Regions from separate parts of the Homo sapiens genome. Here region 2 is linked to region 1. A link means that fine-mapping ties the variant in region 1 to the expression of a gene that starts in the linked region. Tissue or cell type: prefrontal cortex. Region 1 holds a variant in brackets; the other region holds the start of a gene. All regions are shown on one strand. Distances are from middle to middle.

Region 1 (2,760 bases):
CTAAGAGCCCTGATCTGTCTGTGACATAACCTGGCCTTTCTCAAAGAGCCGTTGAGAGGGTTAGCTGAGCCTGCAGATGAAAAAAGCCTGAAGTGCTTCACGAAGAGTTGGCTCTCAGAGCTTCAGTCACCTTCCCGGCATCCATTGCTAGGAGCCTCAGAGGGGACCTGGGGGCCAAGCCAGAATTGTTAGGGTAGAATCAGATCTCTAGGACTCCTGGATGCCAAAAGGATATTTTTACTTGTGTCTTCACAAGATGCCAGACTCTCCCTCTGCTAATAGCTCTGGTGTGCTATGTGCCATCATCTTAAAAAACACTTTCACAGCTTCCATCCTGGTAATTCTTATTTCTCAGCCTTTTGCTTTCCTATCCACCCACAGAGCCAGTAACAATCCCCCAGCCTCTGCCTAGTGCCCACTGAATCACACTGACATTGGCATCTAATTGATTTCTTTCAATCTGTGGATGAAATGAAACATTGTTTTCATCTAGCCTGGAAGGAAGGTGGGTACTGAGGAGGCGATGTCGGAGGATTTCTGGAGGAAAATTCAGTAATTCTGCATATCAATAAAATCCAAACAGGACAGTGAGTCCAGCTTATATATCCTAAGTGTGGATCTTACAAAATTAAAGCTAAAAATTCCCAAGCAGGTGTGTGGGTGAAAAGTAAGAAGCCAGACAGTGATAACACAATTCATTTTCAACTCCTAATAGGAGAAGTGATGAACTTTATTCACCTCCCAAGCTGCATGGGGCATGTATTGGACCACAAAGTAGAATAAGTGGCTCTATCAGAAGTGCCCTTCCTCCCTTAGTGCTCATGCCACACTCATGGAGTGTATTCAGTGTAACCTGAGAGATTGCCCCAGGATGGAGGCAAAAGACCATTTTGGCCACAGTTTTTCTGGAAGACAGGTGAAAATGGTCTACAGAGACAACATTGAAACACATACAAGATTTCTTTTGCCATTTTCTTGCTTTGGGGAGTAAAGTCTTTGCCTCCTTGACAGAGAAAATTTTGCCCCTCCAATTCCTTCCTTCCTTCATTCTCTCACCAAATATTTATTGCTAAACAGTGTTCTAGGCATCAGGGCTTAGCAACTATCTGTCCTGGGGACATTCACACTTACATGTAGAAAAAGAGACAAGTCAGCAGTCCATTTCATTGCAGTGTAACAGGTTTTGAGATGGAGGGAACAGAGTCCTGCAGGGGTACTATGATGGGACACCCAATCCAGGTGGCTGAAGAGTAAGAAGCAAGACAGTGATAACACAATTCATTTTCATCTCTTAATTTGGGATGTGATGAATTTTATCCACCTCCCAAGGATGGAGTGCTCCAGAGAATGGGGATTTCAGGGAGGAATTTTCTCAGAAGG[C/G]CTGTTCAGGTAGGACTTAAAAGAACAGGAGATATATGTCAAGAATACAGAATAATCCTCAGCATCCATGAGGCAAAGCATTTTTCATGGTCAAGGCCAGCTGTACAAATAAGATATTGCCCTCCCACTGCTTCTCATCCTAAGACCCAACCCCTTAACACAGCAGATCAGACCCTGCACTATCTGATCCCCATAAGGGGGCCCACAGTTATACCACATTCAACCTCCCCATCCCTGAGGCTTTGACCTCACTTGCTTTCCTCTCCCACACACCTTCCCAGTCACACTCTTCCCCCTCTCTGGACCACTTTCTTTGCCTAATCTCCCTTTTCACTCTCCAGCTCTTAGCTCAGGAGAGCCATTTGTAGTGGGTTGAATCATGTCCCCCAAAACTCATGTCCATCTGAAACCTCAGAATGAGATCTTATTTGGAAATAGGGTCTTTGCAGATGTAATTAATTAAGATCATACTAAATTAGAATATGCCCTAAATCGAATGATTGATGCCCTTATAAAAAAAAAGAGTACAGAATGCACAAGATACACACAGGCACAAATGCCAAGTGACAGCAGAAGCAGAGATCTAAGTGATGCAGCTATAAGGCAAGAAACAGCAAAGCTGGCTGGCAATTACAAGGATTTAGGAAGAGGCATCTCCCCTGGAGCCTCGAAGGGAGCATGGCCCTACCAACACCTTGATTTTTCACTTCTAGCCTTTGGAACTGTGAGACTATACATTTTGGATGTTGTGAGCCACCAGGTTTGTGGTAATTTATTATAACAGACTTAGAAAATGAATACCTCTTTTCCTGACCCATGCTATCCCACCCCAGCTTGTTCAGAAACATCCCACCTCTGTCCATATACACACACACCACTTTTATACTCTTCTGGCAATCTGAACTTCTCTCAGATATCCCTTATCAAAGTTTGTAATTACATAGTTATTTTTGTAATTTTTTCATTGTTTGTCTCTTCTACTAAATTATAAACTCTATTTTTGGTAGGGAATCTTATTTGTTTTAAAACACCTTCAAATCATCAGAGCTTAACATGATGTAGGTCCTCAATAAATCTAAGTCTATTCATTAAATAATTATCGATCTATCCCTACAAATGTGAATAACCACAAGAAATAAATTAAGTAAGTGCCAAAAGAATGGAAGAGAAGGGTGGGAACAGGAGCAGAAGAGAGAGAACCTGATAGTATGAAATTAACAGAGAAGGTTCTGAGAAATTAGGAGACTTGCATTATTGTATCTTAAGTGGATTTCAGCGAAGACTCAAAGGCATGTGCTTAAAAACAGTGGCTTTTCAAACTCTTTTAACCATGACCCCAGTAAGACATACATCTTAGTCATGACCCAGTGCATGTATTAA
Region 2 (2,760 bases), 830 kb after region 1:
TTGCTGTATCACACAACGAGAACATTCTCTTTTAAGCCTCCTGATATGTGAAGGAGAAAGTCTCTGTTAGGTGCTAATGGGTATTTAACACCTCTCCAAACCTTGCCAATCTCCCTTTTTCACTGAGGGCACACATCTCAAGCCTTGGCAGGCCACGGTTTCCAGCTGGAATTTAATAACCTTGCTTTGTTTTCACTGTGCTTATTTTAACTCTTACTTTCTATTTATGGCAAGTGATACTGATTTCCCATTTAAGGCAGTGATATAATGATTCTCTAAAAAAACGTGTTTAAGGGGTGGGGAAAGTGGATCTGATATTTTAAAAAATATATTAAGTAATAAGTGGTGTGGAGATATGGCCCAGTGAGAAGGCCCGATGTCTGGCCTAGGTCAAGCCCCTCATTTAAAGGTGGGGAGGGAGAATGCAGGCAGGAGACGCAATGCTCAAGGCACCTGGTGTGTCCCCGTCGGCCGTGGTCTCTGAGACTCGCATGCCTCGAAGACCTCTGGCTACTAAGCCTAGGTGACTCCCCGCCCCTCTGGGCGACACGTGCATGGCCCATGTGCCAGTCCGCAGGGTCCCGTGGGCACCGTGAGCTCGGGAGGGAGGCGGCGGCTGGGACAGGCAGGTTGGACACCTGGGAGGGCACCCGGGGACTTCCGCGAAGGAGGAGGGCGCTGGAACCGTGGCGCGCTCGACCTGGCCGGGCGCAAGCCGCTGGAGACCCCGGCCGAGTGGGCAGGCGGCCGGACCCCATGCGGGTCACCTGCGGCCAGGCCGGGCGTGCGTGTGAGCGCGTGCGCAGACGTCAGCCTCCGAGGCCCGGGCCGCCTTCTGGGCAAGGTGCGCGCGCCCAGCGGCCCCGGCCCCACGCGCCCGGACACGCGGAACCGCAGACCGCGGCGCCCCGGAGGCCGCGAAAGGGATGGGCGGGGCCGGGCCGCGGGACCCGCCTCCCATTGGCCGGGCGCCGGGGCGAGGCGGGGCGCCGGGGTGGGGCGGGGCGAGCGGGCTCTGGGGGGCAGACGCTGGCGCTGGGCGGCGGGAGGCGCGGCTCGCGGGGGGCCGAAGGAGCAGGTGGGCGACGCTCGCAGGGGCGCGGGAGGGTGCCGCTGGGACCGTCATCAGGAGCCTGGGGTTCTGCCACCTTTCGGAGGGATCAGCGACCTCTTCGCCCTGCGGGTGACAGTGGGGCATCTGCCTGCGAGAGGGGGAAGGAGGGAGAACCCAGGGCCACACACAAAGTTCTCCTCATCTGGGGACAGGAGGAGGTGAAGGAGGAGGAGCCGGGTTGATGCTAACTTGGAGCTGCGAAACCTTGGGGCGGCGTTCAAGGCCCCCTCCCACACGCGCGCAGAGCAGAGCGCCCTGCTCCTCCTTCAGCTGCTGGCGTCGCCGCGCGGGGAGAAAGAAGCCGTCCCTCCGGCGCTGGGAGAGCTGCAGAGCCGCGGGCAGAGAAGGAGGCCGCGGCCGAGCCCGGCAGCCCGATACCCCCCATCCGAGCGACCCCCTTTGGGGCAGGCGGAGAAGGTGGCATAGGCGACCAGGAGGGTTCGCCCACCTGGGACACGCACCCACAGTCACCTCCAAAGGACCCCCCCTCCCCAAGTCTCTAGGAGCTGCTCCTTCATCACTGGAGTCGCCCCTACCTCTCTGCCCCCAGCCCGAGAGCCCCAGGCGGGGACCCCCGGATCGGACGTCCCCAAGCCTCCGGGCACCTGGCTCAGCAGGAGGCCCCCGGCTCGGGGCAGGGCAGGGCCGGCGGCGGCGAGCCGGAGCCCGCCCCCTGCCCGGGCCCCGCCGAGCCCTCGGAGCCCACCCATGGGGCACCTGCCCCTTGCGCCTCCTTGCCCGGCCGCGCCCAGCCCGGCGTCCCGAGCAGCGCAGGGGAGGATCCCCGCGCAGTGACCCGGGAGCCACCACAGACTCTGGGAGGCTCGGCGGCTGGAGCAGCAGGCAGCTCCCCGCAGCTCCCGGCGCTTCCAGGCAGCTCTCTGAGCCGTGCCAGAGGCCCGGCCCGCCATTCCCAGGTAGGAGACGCCCCAACAGAGCTGGGCATCTGGGGGAAGTGGAGCAGCCGGGAAGAAAGGGTAGAGGCTTGGAGGAGGAAAGCTCAGTGATTCCTTAGATGACCAGAGAAAGTGAAATTGATTGAGCACCTACTATGTGCCGGGATCGTCTGGCAACTTTGCATACCTAGAGAGAATTAAATTCGTTGAGCACCTACTGTATGTGTCAAACTGAGTGCTATACCCTTGACTTAATCCCAGGAAAGAAAGATTTATTGAGCTTCTACTATGTGCTAGTTTTGGTGCCACAGGCTTTGCATTTAAAGAGCTAGAGTAATAGCCCATTTAAATAGGAGGAAACGGGGGCTCAGGGAAGACGAGTCAACTACCACAAACACTCCTGTCCCTCTTCTGGAGCTGGCTGCAGCCTGCATTACCTGGAGGTGGGGAAGGAAGATTAAGAAGCTCCTTCGTTATCCAGAGTTCTTGAGCTTTTTCTGGGTTGGTGCAGAGTGAGTTTCCTGGATGATTCCCTTCCCAGGAGGGGTTTCCTGTAACTTAGCTGTCTTGGAGGGCCCGGAAGGCAGCTCTGGAGGCCTCTCTGTGCCCTCCCCTCCCCTTGTCCCCAGCACCAGGAGGATGACAGGGGATGTTGTCCAAGACCTCATGGAAGGTGGGAAGCCAGGCTGGGAGGGAGCAGCCAGGTCAGGAGCCAGTGAATCAAGCCTCCTGTGGTGTCAGAGACAAGAT

Which allele goes with the higher level. Alleles are on the strand shown, and positions count from the first base shown. SD is a standard deviation of normalised expression in the study named.
For the expression in prefrontal cortex of the gene that starts at base 1,362 in region 2, allele G in region 1 goes with a higher level than allele C (large effect, 0.91 SD a copy in GTEx).

The links. PIP is the estimated chance that this variant, and not a neighbour inherited with it, causes the effect. A credible set is the group of variants that fine-mapping cannot tell apart.
Region 2: it holds the start of RASD2, and the variant in region 1 is the best candidate, but not a certain one, in a credible set for the expression of RASD2 in prefrontal cortex (GTEx, PIP 0.87).

What each region holds. Positions count from the first base shown.
Region 1 is chr22:34,712,731-34,715,490 of GRCh38, forward strand. No RefSeq gene overlaps it. Among named protein-coding and RNA genes, the nearest start is that of LINC02885, 280 kb to the right of the region's middle. The variant C/G (reference allele first, on the strand shown) is at 1,381.
Region 2 is chr22:35,539,470-35,542,229 of GRCh38, forward strand. RASD2 (RASD family member 2) reads left to right here and starts at 1,362. Exons shown (of 3, transcript NM_014310.4): 1 at 1,362-2,031. RefSeq lists enhancers at 24-586, 587-1,149, 1,150-1,712 and a silencer at 834-1,053.